Homo sapiens: one gene and its partners. The protein of the gene in region 1 purifies or fractionates together with the protein of each later gene. This does not show direct contact. Each region holds a gene or a part of one and is shown in the gene's direction. Other genes may lie near its edges.

Region 1 (6,978 bases):
CTCCCAAGCCGGCCAGTCTTGGGGTAATTTTATCTTTTCCTGCAGCAATGTAAACATTTTGAAAGTACAGATTAAGGCTGGCCGCGGTGGCTCACGCCTGTAATCCCAGCACTTTGGGAGGCTGAGGCGGGCAGATCACAAGGTCAGGAGATCGAGACCATCCTGGCTAACATGGTGAAACCCCGTCTCTACTAAAAATACAAAAAATTAGCCGGGCGTGGTGGCGGGCGCCTGTAGTCCCAGCTACTCGGGAGGCAGGAGAATGGCGTGAACCCGGGATGTGGAGTTTGCAGTAAGCTGAGATCCCACCACTGCACTCCAGCCTGGGCAAGAGCCAGATTCTGCCTCAAAAAAAACAAAAAACAAAAAAAATTACCCCAAGACCAACTACCTAAAAATAGTTTACATATTCGATACCTTCTCTTCTAGACTTTTTTCATCTCTGTGTACTGTTTTTTTGTTTGTTTGTTTTGGTTTTGGTTTTTTTTTTTGAGACAGAGTCTTGCTCTGTCCCCCAGGCTGGAGTGCAGTGGCAATGACCTCTGCTCACTGCAAGCCCTGCCTCCTGGGTTCGTGCCATTCTCCTGCCTCAGCCTCCCGAGTAGCTGGGACTACAGGCACCCGCCACCACGCCCAGCTAATTTTTTTGTATTTTTAGTAGAGACAGGGTTTCACTTTGTTCGCCAGGATCTCCTTACCTTGTGATCCGCCTGCCTGGGCCTCTCAAAGTGCTGGGATTACAGGCGTGAGCCACCGCGCCCGGCCCCGTCTGTGTACTGTTACAGAAGCTACTTTTTTTTTTTTTTTTTTTTTTGAGACAGAGTCACCCTCTGTTGCCCAGGCGGAGTGCAGTGGCAGGATCTCGGCTTACTGCAACCTCTGCCTCCCAGGTCCAAGCAAGTCTCCTGCCTCAGCCTCCTGAGTAGCTGGGGCTACAGGTTCAGGCCACCACGCCCGACTAATTTTTTTTGTATTTTAGTAGAGATGGGGTTTCACCATATTGCCCAGGCTGGTCTCAAACTCCTGAGCTCAGGCAATCTGCCCGCCTCAGCCTCCCAAGAAGCTACATTCTTTTGAGCATTTACTATGTACCAGGTACTATGCTAAACACTTTTACTTCATGATTTTCAGAACAACCCAATGAAGGTACTTCCCCTTTATAAATGAGAAAATTGAGGCTGCGAGGTTAGGCTCTTAGTGATATAATTGCTCTATTTTTTTATAAGCAAAAAATACCACAGAAATTAATTTTTAGCTCAAGTGCAGCAGCTTATCATGGCCCATTGCAGCTTTGACCTCCCAGGGTTCAAGCAGTCCTCCCAGCTCAGCCTCCTGAGTAGTTGGAACTACATGCCTGTGCCACTATCCCGGGCTCATTTGTTTTTGTAGAGTTAGGGGTGTCACTTTATTGCCAGGGCTCAAGCAATCTGCCCACCTTGGCCTCCCAAAGTGCTGTGATTATAGGTATGAGCCAGCATGCCTGGCCTAGTTTTGTAATTTGATAATATATCAGTAATATTTTTGTCCCCTCTCTTCCTCCATCCCAGGCTGGGCTTGGAGCCCACAGGACCCTAGAAGTCCTTTAAGAACATTTAACGCTGGACTCAGCTGGGGGCAGGACCAGGATGAAGAAGATGCTTGTTGGATTCTTGAGGACACAGCATGTCTGGAAGCCACCAACCACTGTCCCTTCTGGGACTCAACAGGCTCCCGTGTTTGTAGAAGTGGCTTTGTGGAATATTCCCATCTCCTGCCTCCTAATAGCTTTGAGGGTAAGTATTGTTCCCTCCCCCTCAAATATCTCATCCAGGTTTATGAAGCTCCTTATACCCATCCTCTTACAATCTCCTTTTACAGGTGACAAAAATGAGGCTTACAGGTTAGGCCACTAGATTATACAAGTCAGTCAGCGCAGGGGTTTTGATTCAGTTCCTGTCTGCTGCTTTTAGGAGCTCCAGTTAGTTGAAACTGGGGAATGACCCAATTGTACCTTCTCTTTTCAGCATTCATTTTGTGCTAAATATTGCGCACATCATTGTATGTAATCTCCGTAACTCCAAGTTATTCTCACTCTGCAGATGAGTAAACTGGGGAACAGAAACATTCAGCAATATGGCACCCAGCTAGTAAATGTGGAAGCCAGGACTCAAATTCTCACTTTGCAGCCAGATAGCTTGCAAAGACAGTTCTTCAGCCCTCTCCTTGCCCACAGAAATACTAGGGTCAGGACTACTAAAATGTCTTTAATGAGAGCCTTGAATCAAGTAAGCAAAGTAGGTGATGCCCCTGAACGGGCCTAGCTCCTGCACAGTCACAGTCCAGCCATAGGACCCTTGTTCCAGGCAGGGCAGTCGCACATCAGGGTCCTCATCTGAGAACTGAATCAGGGTCCCCTGAGGGTTTAGAACCCTCAAGCATTCTGATAGAAGCTGGTAAGCCCTAGGCAGACCTCCCCGGGCAACAGCATCCCATGTGCCTTTGTCCAGCAGTAGTTGGAAAGAGCCTGAAGAAGCCACAGCCCCCAGGTTCTGAGCATCGGCGTGCATGAAGTGGAGGCTTGAGGCAGGGTGTCCAGGGCATAGAGGTGTTTGGCCTGGGCCACCCTCCAGGAGGCTATTCATGTGGGCCACAGCCACAGGAGAAAAGTCCACCCCCAGCACATCCACTGGGTGTGGAGATTTGGTGTAGAGGCCTGTACATAGGCTGGAAGTCCCACAGCCCACATCCAGCACTCGCAGAGGACTGGCAGCCTGTGCCTCCTGCAGCAATGGCAGTAGGAGCCCCTGGACTTCGTCGTATCCAAAGAACCAGTCGAAGGTGGGGACAGTGCCCAAACGAGGCTGGGCATGCAGCCGATCCCAGAGACAGCGGTCCGCCAGGCAACTATCAGCCAGTGAGCCTGTGGGCACGGTTGGAGGGTGTCACTTGGTCTATGTCGCCACTGCAAAAACGTCGTATATACACACTGGCGTCTTTTTTTTTTTTGAGACAGGGTCTCACTCTGTGACCCAGGGTTGAGTACAGTAGCACAATGATGGCTCACTGAAGCCTCCACCTCAGCCTCCTGAGTAGCTAGGACTATAGGCGCCATCGTGCCCGGTTAATTTTTTTTGTAGACAGGGTCTCGCTATGTTGCCCTAGGTTGGTCTCGAACTCCTGGGCCAAGCGATCTGCCCGCCTCGGCCTGGCAAAGTGTTAGCATTACAGCCGTGAGCCACCACGCACGGCCCACCGTAGGGTTTGAGAATCACAATTTCAGGGACTACACTCCTGACTCACGAGGAACCCACCTTACCCTCCCCACTCTGCCCCCACCTTGCCCTCTCCACTCTGCCCCCACCTCCCTACCCGCAAAGGGGCGGCACGTCCCCATCATCAGGCTCGGCAAGTGGAGCATTCGACGCAGCGCGGCCATCTGGAGATTCGGGTAAGTTCGACCAGAGAAGCTTATGTGAAGCGTCCACCCTACTCCAGCCGGAGAGGCCTGAGGTCCAGGGGAAGATCTGCAAATTCCGCGTAGCGAAAGGCGGCGTACAGCTTCCCCGAACTCTGCAGTCCCGGAAAAAAGAACGCGGACACAGACTATGGTAGGAACGGCCTTTATTGGCTGCAGCGGGAAGTGGAGGAGGGTATACAGCGTCCGCAGACCTGAAATCAAATGAGAAAGTGTGAGCACCCCGATGGAGGAGCCAGCTGGATCTCGGTTGTCCTTCTCCGAGATTCCCGGTGTCCCGGCGTTTGAGGATAGAACCAGCGGATGGGAAGCCGCCAGCACCGAAGACATGACGCCGAGGGGGCCAGAGCCCTTTCCCTCTTCCTCCGTACATTACGGGGAGCGGCACCACAAGCCCGATCCCCGCCAAGAAAAGGAGGGTCCTGAGACCCCGCCCAGAGCCTTCCACCCGGCACCCCCACCACTCCCGGCCGCCCAATCTGGCTACTACAGCTAAAACCACACTTACTAGCTCACCACCCTCCGAAAGGCCTCCCGCACCGCGGAGCTCCTTTATATAGCCCGAGGACCCGCCCCCGAGTTGCGATTGGCCCGCGGAAGGCCGGGGCGGAGCCCCGCGGATCCGGCGCTGAGCGGAAGTACGGACCGTGAACTGGAGTGGAATCGCGACTATGGGAGCTCCGGGGGGAAAGATCAACCGGCCCCGAACGGTGACTGTGTGGGGGCCGCGACTTTGTTTCCTCAAGCGTTCCTGAGCCCTTTTATCTCGCACGAGATGGGATCAGTGAGGGGCCGGGGCTGCCTGGTGGAGGGGCCCCGGGTCGCGGCGAGCCCACTCCATCTGATTCGCATCTTTCTCCCCGGCAGGAGCTGAAGAAGAAGCTGTTCAAACGCCGGCGGGTGTTGAATCGGGAGCGGCGTCTGAGGCACCGGGTGGTCGGGGCTGTGATAGACCAAGGGCTGATCACGCGGCACCACCTCAAGAAGCGGGCGTAAGTACTAGACCCTCTTCCTGTTGGTCGTCCCCACCGAGTCTTCCTTCCTCCCTGCAGAGCTCCGGAGCAGCTTCACCTCTCAGCTCACCTTGTGCACTGACGCTTATGCGGGGAATGTCTGTCGGCTGTTAGTTCCTAAGCTCTGATAGCCTCTCACAATACCTGTAGCAGACAACCTTTCTTTGGGTTTTGGATTCTGTTAAGAATCTCAGGAAAGCCGGGGATGGTGGCTCATACCTGTAATCCCAGCACTTTGGGGGGCTGAGGTGGGCGGATCACCTGAGGTCGGGAGTTCGAGACCAGCCTGACCAACATGGTGAAACCCCGTTTTTGCTAAAAATACAAAAATTAGCCAGGCGTTGTGGCCGGCACCTGTAGTCCCAGCTACACGGGAGGCTGAGGCAGGAGAATTGCTTGAACCTGGGAGGCGGAGGTTGCAGTGAGCCGAGATCACGCCACTGCACTCCAGCCTGGGCCACAGAGTGAGACTCCGTCTCAAAAAAAAAAAAAAAAAAAAAAGAATATCAGGAAATCTGTTGGCTCTCCATTCTCCAAGTAATGTTATACATTCACACAGATTTTTATAAGTAAACTTATTTTTACATACAGAAAAGTGCACACATAGGCGCATAAAACTCGAAGAATTTTCCCAAAGGCACTCATAGGATTTCACTTGTAAGTTTCAAGGCCTCCTGTGTCTTGAGGAAGAGTTCCCATCCCATTAATTACTTTCTGTGTCCTTTTTTTTTTTTTTTTTTTTTTTCCTCTTTTTTGAGACAGAGTCTCCCTCTGTTGCCCAGGCTGGAGTGAAGTGGCATGATCTCGGCTCACTGCAACCCCTGCCTCCTGGGTTTAAGCTATTCTCTTGCCTCAGCCTCCCGAGTAGCTGGGATTACAGGTGCTCCCCACTGCACCCGGCTAATTTTTGTATTTTTAGTAGAGACGGGGTTTCACCATGTTGGCCAGGCTGGTCTTGAACTCCTGACCTCAGGTGATCCGCCCACCTCAGCCTCCCAAAGTGTTGGGATTACAGGCATAAGCCACCGCCCCCGATCTATGTCCTTTCATTAGCTTCTTCAATGTAAATATTTAGGGTTTCTATTACTATTTATATTATATTTATTTAATACTTTTCCTTTTTTTTTTTTTTTTGAGACGGAGTCTCGCTTTGTCGCCCAGGCTGGAGTGCAGTGGCGCGATCTCGGCTCACTGCAAGCTCCGCCTTCTGGGTTCACGCCATTCTCCTGCCGCAGCCTCCCGAGTAGCTGGGACTACAGGCGCCCGCCACTGCGCCCAGCTAATGTTTTGTATTTTTAGTAGAGACAGGGTTTCACCGTGGTCTCGATCTCCTGACCTCGTGATCCAGCCGCCTCGGCCTCCCAAAGTGCTGGGATTACAGGCGTGAGCCACTGCGCCCAGCCTATTTAATACTTTTTCTATAGCCAGAACTATTTGTGTGACCTCAGTTGGTTCAGGTTAACCTAGCTCTCTTTATTTCCACTTACCCATCAGGTCCAGTGCACGTGCCAACATTACACTGTCAGGGAAGAAGCGCAGAAAACTCCTCCAGCAGATCCGGCTTGCCCAGAAAGAGAAGACAGCCATGGAAGGTGAGGCTGGGACAGAGGTGGGTGAGGGGAATCCTGGATTTATTTGGGATAATACTTCCTTCTTCCCTTTACTCAGTGGAAGCCCCTTCAAAGCCAGCCAGGACTAGTGAACCACAGCTCAAAAGGCAAAAGAAGACAAAAGCCCCCCAGGATGTAGAAATGAAGGACCTTGAAGATGAGAGCTAAACCTCTTCCACTAGAAGATTCTCAACTGGAGCCAGCCTTCAGACTCAGTGGTTGTTTCAGAGGACTTTGACAAAAGCAAGGCCCCTTTTCACTCTCCAGATTTCCTCCTACCTAATGGCCTACTGACCTCCCCTAGAGGGATGTCTTTGGGAGGGAAGAAGGTACAGAAGAAAGATTGGAGAAGGGCCTCTCTAGCAGTCAACTCCATTTGTAATAAAGCCCTAGCACTCTGAGATGTGTGTGATTAAATGTAGGAATGGGGATGGGTCATGAAAAGATTGGGGAGTATGGAAACAAGACAGTGAGGAAGCAGTACCCACAGCTTCCTTGTGCAAATGCAACAAGATGCCAGCCTCTGCCCTCAAGAGTGGTGGTGCCTGGCCGGGTGCAGTGGCTCACGCCTCTAATGCCAGCACTTTGGGAGGCCGAGGCAGGTGGATCACCTGAGGTCACAAGTTCGAGACCAGCCTGGCTAACCCCGTTTCTACTAAAAATACAAAAAATTAGCCGGGCGTGGTGGTGCACGCCTGTAATCCCAGCTACTTGGAGGCTGAGGCAGGAGAATCGCTTGAACCCGGGAGGCGGAGATTGCCTACCGGGGTATTGCTTGAGGCCAGGAACTCAAGGCTGTAGTGTGCTGTGATCTCATCTGTCTCCTTAGTGAGTGATACTCTAACTTTCCATTTATGACAAAGATACAGATTATTCGAGAAGTTGAAGTTACAGTGAGCCA
Region 2 (7,027 bases), on another chromosome or scaffold:
TCCAGACCATAGAAACTTTTTTTGCAGATAAAAACATCTATCTGCCTCTTTACACTAATTTTCTCTTTCTATTGTAGACTACATGAGGATATGGACCTTTTTTCCTCTTAAATTTCTTTTGCATGATGCTTTGTGTTTAATACTATTAAATATGCATTCTAATCATGTTTTTTCAAATCTATATTTTTAAAATTTTGTGACAAGATAAATGAGTGATTCTCAGCTGGGGTTGGAAAAGGAGCTTCTATAAGAATATCAGGGCCGGCCAGGCGCGGTGGCTCATGCCTGTAATCCCAGCACTTTGGGAGGCCAAGGCGGACGGATCACGAGGTCAGGAGATCGAGATCATCTTGGCCAACATGGTGAAACCCCGCCTCTACTAAAAAAATACAAAAAATTAGCTGGGTGTGGTAGCGCATGCCTGTAATCCCAGCTACTGGGGTGGCTGAGGCAGGGGAATCACTTGAACCCAGGAGGCGGAGGTTGCAGTGAGCTGAGATCACGCCACTGCACTCCAGCCTGGTGACATGGCAAGACTCCGTCTCAGAAAAAAAAAAAAAAAAAAAAAAAGGAAAGAATATCAGGGCCAGGTGCAGTGAGTCACGCCTGTAATCCCAGCACTTTGGAAGGCCCGAGGCGGGCAGATCACGAGGTCAGGAGATCGAGACCATCCTGGCCAACATGGTGGAACCCCGTCTCTATTAAAAATACAAAACTTAGCAGGGTGTGGTGGCGCACGCCTGTAGTCCCAGCTACTCAGGAGGCTGAGGCAGGAGAATCGCTGGAACCTGGGAGTCGGAGGTTGCAGTGAGCCAAGATCACCGCTGCACTCCAGCCTGGCAACAGAGCGAGACTCCATCTCAAAAAAAAAGAATATCAGGGTAGGGCCAGGCGCAGTGGCTCACACCTGTAATCCTAGCACTTTGGGAGGCTGAGGCAGACAATTGCTTGAGCTCAAGAGCTTGAGACCAGGCGCAGTGGCTCGCACCTGTAATCCCAACACTTTGGGAGCCTAAGGTGGGTGGATCACCTGAGATCAAGGGTTCGAGACCAGCCTGGCCAACATAGTGAAACCCTGTCTCTACTAAAAATACAAAAAAATTAGCCAGGTGTAGTGGTGCGCGTACCTATAGTCCCAGTAACTCGGGAGGCTGAAGCCAGAGAATCACTTGAACCTGGGAGGCAGAGGTTGCAGTGAGCCAGGATCGCGCCACCACACTCCAGCCTGGGCAACAATGCAAAGCCCGTCTCTACAAAAAATACAAAAATTAGGCATGATGGCATGTACCTGTAGTTCCAGCTACTCAGGAGGCTGAGGTGGGAGGATGGTTGGAGCCCTGGAGGCAGAGGTTGCAGTGAGCAGAGATCACATCACTGCACTCCAGACTGGATGACAGAGCCAGACCCCGCCTCAAAAAAAAAAAAAAAAGTCAACTAAGTGCAACTGGCCTAAAAAGCAGTTAGTCCAGATTGTAGCAGGAGACCGGAGGGCCCTATGAAGGCAACTTCCAGGAGAAAATTCTAATTGATGGGTTTGAGGGTATGGAAAAATACATTGATAAGGCAAATAGCAGAGATGTTGGCGTGTTTGTAAAAAGTTAATAATAGCTATATGGGAAACCAAGCAAGTGAACAAATGAGGCAGTTATTAACTCTAGGAAAAAATAGGTGTATAAGGAAAGAGAGACATTGTCTGGGCACAGTGGCTCATGCCTATAATCCCAGCACTTTGGGAGGCCGAGGCGGGTGGATCATCTGAAGTCAGGAGTTCGAGACTAGCCTGGCCAACATGGTGAAACGCCATCTCTACTAAATACAAAAATTAGCCAGGCATGGTGGCAGGCACCTGTTATCCCAGCTACTCTGGAGGCTGGGGCAGGAGAATCACTTGAACCTGGGAGGCGGAGGTTGCAGTGAGTCAAGATCGTGCAACTGCACTTCAGCCTGGGCAACAAGAGTGAAACTCCATCTCAAAAAAAAAAAAAGGAAAAGGAAAAGAGACATGGTTTTTTTTTTGTTGTTTTTTTTGGTTTGTTTTGAGATGGAGTCTAGCTCTGTCACCCAGGCTGGAGTGCAGTGGCGCGACCTTGGCTCACTGCAACCTCTGCCTCCTGGGTTCAAGCAATTCTTCTTTCTCAGCCTCCTGAGTAGCTGGGACTATAGGTGCCTGTCACCATGCCTGGCTAATTTTTTTGTGTATTTTTAGTAGAGACAGGGTTTTACCATGTTGGTCAGGCTAGTCTCGAACTCCTGACCTCAAGTGATCCACCCACCTCAGCCTCCCAAAGTGCTGGGATTACAGGCTTGAGCCACCAGGCCTGGCTGAGACATAGTTATTTCTATTTGCCTCAGCTCTGAACCATATTTGCATAGTCATAATAATATAAATGTGGACTATTGATTTAACCAAATTATGCCAGAGCTATGTTGGTAGAATGAGAGCAGGAGATACAGTGGAAGATGATGCTATAAGAAGCTTCATCTTCATCTACCATAGTAGGAAGTTAAAACTGGCTGACTCTGGGTACATTGTCTATGAGTTAGCCCTGCTCTGCAAGGAGCAGTAAAGAAAATTTTAAAAGTCTAAAATTAAGTCATACCCATATAAACATTGTTTAAGAATAATTATTAAAAAGCAGGATAACACTGTGCATGGTGGCTCACGTGGTAACCCCCACACTTTGGGAGGCCAAGATGGGAGGATCGCTTGAGTCCAGGAGTTCCAGACCAGCCTGGGCCACATAGAGAGACCCTGTCTCTATAAGAAGTAAATAAATAAAAAGCAGGATAACCATGGAAAATAACTGAAGGTAATTGCTTCTGGGAAAAGGTTAGTGGGGGATTAAGTCAAGAGAAATTTAGGAATTAATTTAAAACCATATAATGACAAATTTCTCTTTCTACAGAAATTAATTAATTAAAATTTTTTTTTTTTTTGAGACAGTCTCACTCTGTCACCCAGGCTGGAATGCAATGGCGTGATCTTGGCTCACTGCAATCTCCATCTCCTGGGTTCAAACGATTCTTAAGTAGGTGGGATTACAGCCATCTGCCACCTTGCCTGGCTTTTTTTTTTTTTTTTTTTTTTTTTATAGAGATGGGGTTTCACCATGTTGGCCAGGCTGGTCTCGAACTCCTGACCTCAGGTGATCCGCCCGCCTCGGCCTCCCAAAGTGCTGGGATTACAGACGTGAACCACCACATCTGGCCAGAAATTACAGAATTTTATAATGTACTTGGCCAAAGTATATTCAGATTTATCATCACTTAAAGTTTCTCTAAACAAATCTAGCAATTTATAGGTGAAGTCCAGTGCTTTGAATGGTAGACCTGTAATAAGTTTTTGTTAATCAGAAGATATTTCTCTATAAGGAGATTTTTGCTAACTCAACCTGTTTCTATTTTCCTTTTAGGTTTAAGTTTTTGAAACTGAAGTAGGCCTACACAGTAGGAACTCATGTCATTTCTTGTAAGTAAACCAGAGCGAATCAGGGTGAGTGTTTTTCTATTCTTCTGGCTTTACTATTTTTGTTTTCTGAAAAGCAGTGTATTTTGGCAGATGTTGTAGGTGGTTTTCTACGTGAGGGTCGGAATGATACGGAAGTGAGGGATGTAGGAAGTAAGGCAGGTAGTGCAGCCTCCACTCCTGAGAAGAGTTTGCAGACAGAGGCTGACCAGAGACACAAAATTTACCACCAGCTTGTCTGATAGAGAAGAAATAAGAAGAAAGTGGCTTATTTCATGAATATCAGTCATACAACATTAAATGAGTCGATGATACTTTTAAGTGTAGACGTTTAACTGCTTATGACCCCCCGTGAGGTTGTGAGTTTTCAAAATCAAGTTGTAATTACTAGGACACTTTTTTCTAAGTAATATCATTAGTTTTAATTGAAGACATTTTGAACATGAAAGATTTTATTATACTTCAAAACTTCGTCAGATAAAATGATTTCAAAAACAATACTAGATTTAGCTTCTTTACAAATTCCCATTATTTCATGAGTTTCTTATTTTCTTTATTATCAAGTACCTAATTTCTAAATGCAGTTGTAATTATTTTAGAATTTTGTAACAGTGTATAAGTGCTATGAGATATTATGAGTATACCACTTTCTTTACATATTAAAGCATAATTTATGTTTTTTGATGCAGTGCATATAATTTTTATGAAGTTTTCAATTTAGGATATTACTTCTTTTTTGATTTGGAAAAAATAGTTATAGGTAAGGGCAGAAGATGCTATAGTTCCAATTCACAGTCTGTATCATGCAACTTATTTCTGAATGTTACTTAATCTTTTTTCTAATGTTTATGCATATAAGAACAATTTATATTAGAAAGAGTAAACTTCACTGTTAATTAAGAGGAAAAAAGGAATCTCTCCATAGCCTGAACTCTGCCCAGTGGAAAGAATGCCCCCAAGCCAAAGTGTAACACCAGTCCTTAAGGGAAATACAATCTTGATTCCATTGCTTTTAAATATGAGCTCCTTGTCTGCTTCAACGTAGCCTAATTCAGGTGAAACGAAACCACTGATCAGAATGACAGAAATCTAATACTCGTTTGAAATAGGCCAGTAAAGTGAGCCATAGATTGATCCTGCTAGTTTGGTCTTACTAGTTTGGCCCTTGTGAACTTGGCAGAAAATGTAAGCAGCCATGTCTTTAGAACCCCTAGTGGATAAAGAATATGCAACTTGTTGTGTGCCATTTTACAAACTAACAGGGTCTTGTGAATAACTACTGTTTCATCTCTGTTTTCTGTGTTATGAATTCCAGTAATAGTTTTCAAATTGACATCAGTGATCCAAGGCATCTGTAATGTAGAACGAGTAAGATGGAACCAATATAGGGAAGGCAAAAACAGTCTTCATTATTACAGCCAGTACTATCTATTTCTCATCTGTCAAATTTAAGAATTATTCATCAAATAGGCAAAGAGGAGTGGAGAAAGGAATCTTGTTTTTAGTTCAAGATTCTGTTAAAAACTTTTCCATAGAAATGATTCCTAACTGTACTGCATGATTCTGTTTTCATAGTTGGGATTTTGTTTGTCTGTCTAAAGGCTGATAGCTAATTTGTTGCGGCTTGGAAGAAATACTAATTCTCTTTGGGGTTTTCCTCTTTAGCGGTGGGTCTCGGAAAAGTTCATTGTTGAGGGCTTAAGAGATTTGGAACTATTTGGAGGTAAGTACAGTATGGCATTTAGCCATCACTTCAGGATATAAAAATCACTACTTTTTTGTTGACTAAATCAATCTATAGCAATTGGCAATTCTAAGGGCAAGTGTAACCTACAGTTGTTGGATTTCTTTGGTTCCTTTTTGAATTTATGGTTTCCCAAAGATTTGAAGACTAACATGGCAATTTTCCTTGGCCTGTCTTGATTGTTAGAAAGCCAGTATTTACTTAAAAGCATATATGTTTTCTTTTGTCCAGGTGAAATACATATTTTTAAAGGAAGAAAACTATTTAAAAGTCTGTAGCCTTGATTTAAAAAATAATTGTCAAGACAAAGGAAGCAATGATATGAAAGTTCTGGTTTTATTGATGAATCTAGTTGACTCATTTTTTCATGGTAGAAATTATGAGATTTAAGAGAACTAAGGAAAAATCTTTCAGAACAAAAATATGAACTTCCTATTGTAAAACCTGACTGTTGATTTCAGAAGTAAACTTTGACAGGCCTAGGCATTACCCTTTGGCCATTTTCAAAGTGAGCCTTTTTGGGAACTGTCATCTTAATTTAGGGCAACAAAAATTATTTTCAATAAAAATAATAGTAGAGCCCCATTCTTTGTGTCTGAATTCTAAGATACTCTTTTAGGATCCTATAGTTTAAGAAACAGATTACCGGCCGGGTATGGTGGCTCACGCCTGTAATCCCAGCACATTGGGAGGCCGAGGTGGGCAGATTACGAGATCAGGAGATCGAGACCATCTTGGCTAACATGGTGAAACTCCGTCTCTACTAAAAATACAAAAAAATTAGCCGGGCGTGGTGGTGGGTGCCTGTAATCCCAGCTACTCCAGAGGCTGAGACAGGAGAATGGCGTGAACCCAGGAGGCGGAGCTTGCAATGAGCGGAGATCGCGCCACTGCACTCCAGCCTGGGAAACAGAGCTAGACTCCGTCTCAAAGAAAAAAAAAAGGAAAGAAAGAAACAGATTATCGGCCGGGCACGGTGGCTCACGCCTGTAATCCCAGCACTTTGGGAGGCCGAGGCAGGCGGATCACCTGAGGTCAGGAGTTCAAGACCAGGCTGGCCAACGTGGTGAAACCACATCTCTACTAAAAATACAAAAATTAGCCGGGCATGGTGATGCACACCTGTGGTCCCAGCTGCTAGGGAGACTGAAGCAGGAGAATGGCTTGAACTCGCGAGGTGGAGGTTGCAGTGAGCCAAGATCACGCCATTGCACTCCAGCCTGGGCGACAGAGCAAGGCTGAGTTTTTGAGACTCCGTCTCAAAAAATAAAATAAGAAGGAAATTTAAAAAACAGATTATCAGATTGAGTACATTGGTTAGCTGATCCAAAATACGCCCAGATAGGTTTTTTTGGTCTTGTTTTATTTTGTTGTTGTTTTGTTTTGAGACAGAGTCTCGCTCTGTCGCTCAAGCTGGAGTGCAGTGGCACGATCTCGGCTCACTGCAAACTCCGCCTCCCGGGTTCAAGAGATTCTCCTGCCTCAGCCCTCCTGAGTAGCTGGGATTACAGGATCACACCACCATGCCCGGCTAAATTTTTTTTGTATTTTTAGTAGAGACAGGGTTTCACTTTGGGAGGCCCAGGCGGGCGGATCACAAGGTCAGGGATAGGTTTAAGTAATTGAAAACTCAAACTTGTTAGTTACTAGGTGGTACCTATTATTTTCCCTAACACATCTCAAAGAATTTCTGGACTAGTGATATCTGTGAACTTTGTCAAAGTATTATGTTTTAGATAAATGGGAGTTTAGAATAATGATGAGTTCTTTATATTTTAGTTGGAAAGAATTAGTTAGATGCACAGTAAAGGAAAGGA
Region 3 (6,106 bases), on another chromosome or scaffold:
CTAGTAATTCAGTAAAGTGACGTATCTCAGATAGTTTTCACAAAATATAGTGAAGACACACAATACAGAATGGTTTATTTGCAAGGTGTTGAGAAATGGTTCACGCAAGTCAAATCACTTTTGAGCCGTGTTTTGAAAAATGAGTAGATATTTACTGGCAATTGGGTTTGGGAGAGGCGAACAGACCATTCCAGATGTTATTTCACTTTTATTCTTTAGATACTGATTTAACACCTCTGTACCAACTACTATGATACAGATGCTAGAGATATGCTAAATGAAACAGCACATCCATAAAATGTATAGTGTGATGGAGTGGAGCACATCGTAAACAAAAGTCTAGAGGAAACTGAAAGTAAGGGAAGAGGTACAGAAAATTGAGGCTACAGAAGGGGCAAGGCCCAAATCATGAGGTTTTCCATATGCAGTAAGGAGTTTGGAATCCATCTTAGCAATAGCACTTGAGGTGTAGTGGAAATAATCAAGATTAGAGACAGGGACTTGGAATAACTCAGGCAATAAATAATGAGAGCCTAAACTAAAATGATAGCATAAGGGTGTGAAAAGGTTGGGGGGGCAGGGGGTGGGACATGTTAATGATACTTAAAAGGACAGAACCAACTGGGCACAGTGGCTCACACCTGTACTTCCAGCTGCTCTGGAGGCTAAGGCAGGAGTATCACTTGAGTCTGGAGTTGGAAACCAGCCTAGGCAATGTAGTAAGACCGTATCTCTATAAAAAGGGTGGAACCAACAGGACTGGGTCATTGATTTAATATGGGGGTTGAAAGTAAAGTGAAATATGATGGGTGCTCAGGATTCTGATTTGGGTGGGTGACTACCTTTCACTGAGGTAAGTTATATAGGAAATGGTTTCTGGAAAACATTAGTAAGGTCAGTTTTTAAACACTGAATCCAAGGTTGTCTTCTGGAATATCCAAATTGGTTATGACCAGAATGTGATTCATTATACTAAGCTAAAGGAATAGATTAAAGAATTAGCAACAGTGGCCGGGTGCAGTGGCTCATGCCTGTAACCCCAGCACTTTGGGGGAGGCCCAGGTGGGTGGATCATTTGAGGTCAGGAGTTTGAGACCAGCCTGGCCAACATGGTGAAACCTAAAAATACAAAAATTAGCCAGGTGTGGTGGCAGGTGCTTGTAATCCCAGCTGCTTGGGAGGCTGAAGCAGGAGAATTGCTTGAACCCGGAGGCAGGGGTTGCAGTGAGCCAAGATCACACCATTGCACTCCAGCCTGGGTGGCAGAGTGAGACTCTGTCTCAAAAATTAAAAAGCAACAGTGTATATGCAATAGTTGCAAGATGTAAGATCACCCAAAGAGTATGCAGAGGGAAATGAGGGACAGAACCCAGAAATATTAATACCCAGGGAGTGAACAGGAGGAGGACCCCAAGAAGTTACTGAGTCAGATTTTTCCCACTCATCCAGGTGAAAGTTTAGGTCAATAATGTGAAATACCAGAGGGATTAAATGTCTACAGAAATAAAACCATGTCTCACATTAAGACAAACAAGTAGGTTGGAGGGATATTTTGAAAGGCAAGGTGATATTAAACTTTATTCTGAAAGTAGTTTGTTAGAGAAAGAGGCATGATAAGAGTTGCAGTTAACTGATTGGAAACTATGCAGCAGATGAAACTGGAATAAAGGAAACTCATCAGGAAATGATTATAGTAATAAGGGCCAGAAATAAGGGCTTGCTTGCCTGAACTAAAAACAAAGAGGATACAAAGGTTCTAGAAATATTTCAAAGGAATTAGCTTTAATTCAGCAATACTCATTGAGAATCACCTATGCACCTGGCTCTGAAGATGAAGTGCTGAGTAAACTTAGACATGGACCCTGCTATCATGGAGATGGCAGATTATTGGTCAGAATGCTCTTACCTGTCATTGTAGCAATTTTGTTAGATCCTTAATACCTCTGAATTGCTAATAAACTTGTTTTGGCTGAAAAAATAGTCCTGTGAATTTTACCATGCAGTTAAATAAGAAACTAAAAGCAAACCTAAATACCACCAAAAAGGTTAGTAGTCTGTTATATGCATTAGCCTTAATCTAAGGAAATATTTTATTATAGGTCTCCTTGAAGAAAATGATATTTTCAGGAATGCTCAAGCAGGTGTTCTCATCAGCACTAATAGTCATCCAATCTTAAGGAAAAACAGAATATTTGATGGATTTGCCGCAGGTTTGTATTTTCTTTTCTTACCTGTGGCTTATATATAGTTCTGCAAAGTGTTTGATGTGGAGTATATTCATTTTGTTTTGCTTATTAACTAAAATGTGCAAAGTGTGCTGAAGTGGCTGAATGCCTGTTCATTCACTTACAAGAGCACCTAATCAAGTTCTGGATTCTTCTACTCTAAGCCAGACTCCTAAGAAATATTGCTCTTATTGCTTAGTCGTGATTATGAAACATTTATTGGGATAGAATAAATGCAGGCTTGTATTACCACTAGGAATACAGATAGATTCAATTCCTCAGATGAATTTACCAGTTTAAATCTGCAACAGAAAAAGAGATGTTAAAATGGATGCAAATGAAATCCAAGTATCATGTATTTAAACTTTAAGACAGTTAGGTTGGTGCGAAAGTTAATTGCAGTTTTGACCATAGTCATTGATAAGTGAATGTTACTGTTGGTGGTTGAAATAGGTATCTACATTTTATTCAGTAGACATTAAGAGGGTTAATGTACTTCTATAAAAGAAGCAGTTTACATTTGCTTGCTAATTTCAGGTTTTTAAGAAGCAGTATAAAGTGATGTATCTACTTGTTTGTAAATTTTACTTCAGGTATTGAAATTACAAATCACGCAACTGCAACACTAGAAGGCAATCAGATTTTTAACAACCGGTTTGGAGGCTTATTTTTAGCATCTGGTGTTAATGTGACAATGAAAGGTATGTTGGAGTCTGCTATACCTATAAATATATGCAATATGCCATGAAAGATAATCAGAAGCCGTTTTATAACTTGATTCCTTATGTCACTCTCCAAGTTAGCAACAGTTTAAGATAGATTTTGAAAGAAACAGAGCTTTGGTTCTAAATGGTTGGAGTATCTTATACAAGGAAAATTCTATTCTTAGCTGATTTCTTACAATTACTTCATTGGTTAGCTTCATTTAAAGCTCTTAAAAATAGTGGCTCTTCTGTTAGAATAATCCTATAATCTTTGGTTTTTAAAATATTAACATTCCTCTGAATTTTTACTTATTCTTTCTTTTATTACAGATAACAAAATAATGAACAATCAAGATGCCATAGAAAAGGCTGTTAGTAGAGGCCAATGTTTATATAAAATATCAAGTTATACCAGCTATCCCATGCATGATTTCTACAGGTAACTTAGAAATATATTTGAGTCCTGAAAAGAGGAAGACTGATTTCCTTTTTAAATTAGCAATGCCTAGCATTTTTGGCTATTTGCCGGTGTTGAGACTATAACTAACTGAAAATTTTATCATCAATCTACTTGAAGATCGTGTTTAAGACTGTAACTGTGGGTAGGCGTGGTGGCTTATGCCTGTAATCCTAGCACTTTGGGAGGCTGAAGTGGGAGGATCACTGGAGCCCAGGAGTTCTAAACCAGCCTGGGCAACATAGGGAGACCCTGTCTCTACAAAACAAAACAAAGACCATAACTATGGAAAAACCTAATGCTACAGTAACTGATGTCATTCATGTAACTCATGTTGTGTAATGTTTTCCTAGAAATTTCAAGGTAAAGATGTCGGGGTTAAGTGTTTGATATATCCCAGTCACTGTGACAGTTTTGACTCTTCACGCCTCCAAAAATTGTTTTCAGCCCAGAAACATTTGAGAGGCTTTTAAAGTGGAAAGAACTGCCTTTATACAATTTACAAATCATTTCTCTTCCCTCCGAAGACACAGATGACAGGAAAATCACTTACTCCATTAAAGTTCCTTTTCAGAATTAATCTGGGCTGGAGCCACAAAGAATTTTGTTTTGGTCCTCTTAAAGCCAAAGGTCATAGTAATATATAAACAGAATGGAATGTTTTGCATTAATGACATGTTTGAGAAAAGTAATTTAAGCTTTTGCTTTTTAGATGTCATACTTGTAACACCACAGATCGAAATGCCATATGTGTGAACTGCATTAAGAAGTGCCATCAGGGACATGATGTAGAGTTTATTAGACATGATAGGTATGTAGCACACTTGCTTGATATATTACCCAATTACTTTCCCCCTCACTTTTCTAATATTTGGGTTTCATTTTGCTTTAGGTTTTTCTGTGACTGTGGTGCTGGAACACTGTCTAATCCTTGTACATTAGCTGGTGAGCCTACACATGATACAGATACACTATATGACTCTGCTCCACCTATAGAATCTAATACATTGCAGCACAACTGAATTCCTTCCCTAAAGAAAAAGTCCTGCCATTGTAACATCATAACTTAAAACACTTTTTTGGAAGAAGATTTAAAATATTTGCCCATGCTACAGGAAGAGACTGTATTAAAAATGGATACACAAGGTCAGTTGACACTATGAAGCTCAAGCTACCAAAAAGAAAGTGGCAATATATTGACTCAGGATCTCAAAGCTGGGTGTTTTAGCATTACTGTGTAAAGACTTGAAGGGACAGAAGTGAAGAAAATAAGCTGCAATTTTGTACAGATACCAACTTCTGAAAAGCTGGTGTTTTTACAACTAGCATTGAATGCAGTCCAATTTGCAGTAGTAATCTTCAATAGACAAGCAGCTTTGTTGCTGCCTTTATGGACATGGGTACCAATTGCTTTTGTAATATGGTAAAAATGTGAGCTAGCACTTCTGCGTTCCTTTTGATTTTTTTTTTTTAACATGTATTCAGATTGAGAAATATGATTTTAATGCTTTAATCTCATGTAGTTTGTTTTTAATTTCAAGCAAAATCTTACTGTACTTGAATGTGCCCTGTTTTGTTAGCACACCTAGACTTGCTGTAACTGTACTCATGTCCCAGTATGTACGTTCTTTCTATGAAAGAGAAAACACTAATCTTAAATTATATCCAGCAATGTTTCTGGTATCCTTTAAGAAAAGTTAAGACTATTATTTCCTTCCCTTCCCTGTGCAGCATTCAAAATCACCCCTAGAAAAAGTGAGTGTTTTAATGAGACTTCCTAGGAAGGGATGCACTGTAAAACAAAAGTATTCTTGTAACTCAGTTTTGTGAAAGGTAAAAAACTACTATGTTTTAAGTACACTTTAGAAAGTCTCTTCAAAACAAACAGTCCTGTATTTGAACTCTGTTCATAGTTTTTTTTTGAACAGTTTAGACAAAACTGCTGGAAATTAAACCAATTTCCTGCATTAAGCTGAGACAAGTATATATACAGCCCTATACAGTTTCATAGCTTTTCCTCCCCCATTTATGTGTATTGGTGACAGTGGGTATAAAACAGCCTGAAAGTGTATGCATGTACCATAACATCTAGACTTAATATATTGTGGAGTATTCAATAACCATTATGTAGAAGGTAGATAAGAATTAAAAGGGTTTAATTTCCTAGAAAGAAAATGGAAAAATGGTCATTTTTAAAAAATAAAGTTTATTAGATCATAATGTTGTCTGAATTTACCACCTTTGTCAGAAGTCAACTCAAAGCTTCCAATGTAGTCAGTCTATAATTCCTTAATCAAAGTCAGCAATTTATGGACAGCTTCAGCATCTACAGTTGACCTTTCACTAGCCAGGCAAACTTCCCTTAAAATTAAAAAAAAAAAAAAAAAAGTTTTTTTGTTTTTTCATAGTGCATCATCCCTTCCCCTTTTACTGTTTCTTTGAAACTTAAGGTCAGTTAGTTATAATTCCATTATAGTTAGTTAGTTACCGAAATAATCGTAGTGACTGATTCATCTTCTCAAATTCTCTTGCTTTTCTATGTCCCTTTTGAATAACTTCCTCTGGGAGATTAGCAAGCCTTGCTGCATTAAAGCCATAGCTTTTAGGACAAGCTCCCTTAATGAATTTATAGAGGAACGTAATAGTCTCCTGGCTGGGGTCTTCACATTCATTTTCTACCATGCATGCCTTAAGAAAGAAAAATATTAGCGATACATGTG

The links.
Region 2: the proteins of LBHD1 (region 1) and STRADA purify together in Homo sapiens (affinity purification with mass spectrometry; 2 studies listed by BioGRID and IntAct, with this or other methods). This does not show direct contact.
Region 3: the proteins of LBHD1 (region 1) and FBXO11 purify together in Homo sapiens (affinity purification with mass spectrometry; 2 studies listed by BioGRID and IntAct, with this or other methods). This does not show direct contact.

Annotation. Positions count from the first base shown.
Region 1 is NC_000011.10:62,662,317-62,669,294, reverse strand, and holds the end of LBHD1 (LBH domain-containing protein 1), read left to right. Parts: intron 1-1,186; exon of another isoform or gene 1,187-1,547; coding exon 1,548-1,772; exon of another isoform or gene 1,773-2,243; coding exon of another isoform or gene 2,244-2,899; intron 2,900-3,348; coding exon of another isoform or gene 3,349-3,784; exon of another isoform or gene 3,785-3,983; intron 3,984-4,078; exon of another isoform or gene 4,079-4,125; coding exon of another isoform or gene 4,126-4,164; exon of another isoform or gene 4,165-4,321; coding exon 4,322-4,446; intron 4,447-5,961; coding exon 5,962-6,059; intron 6,060-6,135; coding exon 6,136-6,166; coding exon of another isoform or gene 6,167-6,245; 3' UTR 6,246-6,478; downstream 6,479-6,978. Other genes in the region: CSKMT (citrate synthase-lysine N-methyltransferase CSKMT, mitochondrial), read right to left, coding at 2,244-2,899, 3,349-3,784; uncharacterized protein C11orf98, read left to right, coding at 4,126-4,164, 4,322-4,446, 5,962-6,059, 6,136-6,245.
Region 2 is NC_000017.11:63,724,800-63,731,826, reverse strand, and holds part of STRADA (STE20-related kinase adapter protein alpha), read left to right. Parts: intron 1-3,413; 5' UTR 3,414-3,457; coding exon 3,458-3,493; intron 3,494-5,131; coding exon 5,132-5,189; intron 5,190-7,027. UniProt on the Homo sapiens protein: Pseudokinase which, in complex with CAB39/MO25 (CAB39/MO25alpha or CAB39L/MO25beta), binds to and activates STK11/LKB1.
Region 3 is NC_000002.12:47,806,420-47,812,525, reverse strand, and holds the end of FBXO11 (F-box only protein 11), read left to right. Parts: intron 1-2,099; coding exon 2,100-2,210; intron 2,211-2,424; exon of another isoform or gene 2,425-2,527; intron 2,528-2,818; coding exon 2,819-2,926; intron 2,927-3,259; coding exon 3,260-3,368; intron 3,369-3,939; exon of another isoform or gene 3,940-4,003; intron 4,004-4,098; coding exon 4,099-4,197; coding exon of another isoform or gene 4,198-4,278; coding exon 4,279-4,408; 3' UTR 4,409-5,606; downstream 5,607-6,106. Other genes in the region: DNA mismatch repair protein Msh6, read right to left, coding at 5,666-5,747, 5,875-6,074. UniProt on the Homo sapiens protein: Substrate recognition component of a SCF (SKP1-CUL1-F-box protein) E3 ubiquitin-protein ligase complex which mediates the ubiquitination and subsequent proteasomal degradation of target proteins, such as DTL/CDT2, BCL6, SNAI1 and PRDM1/BLIMP1.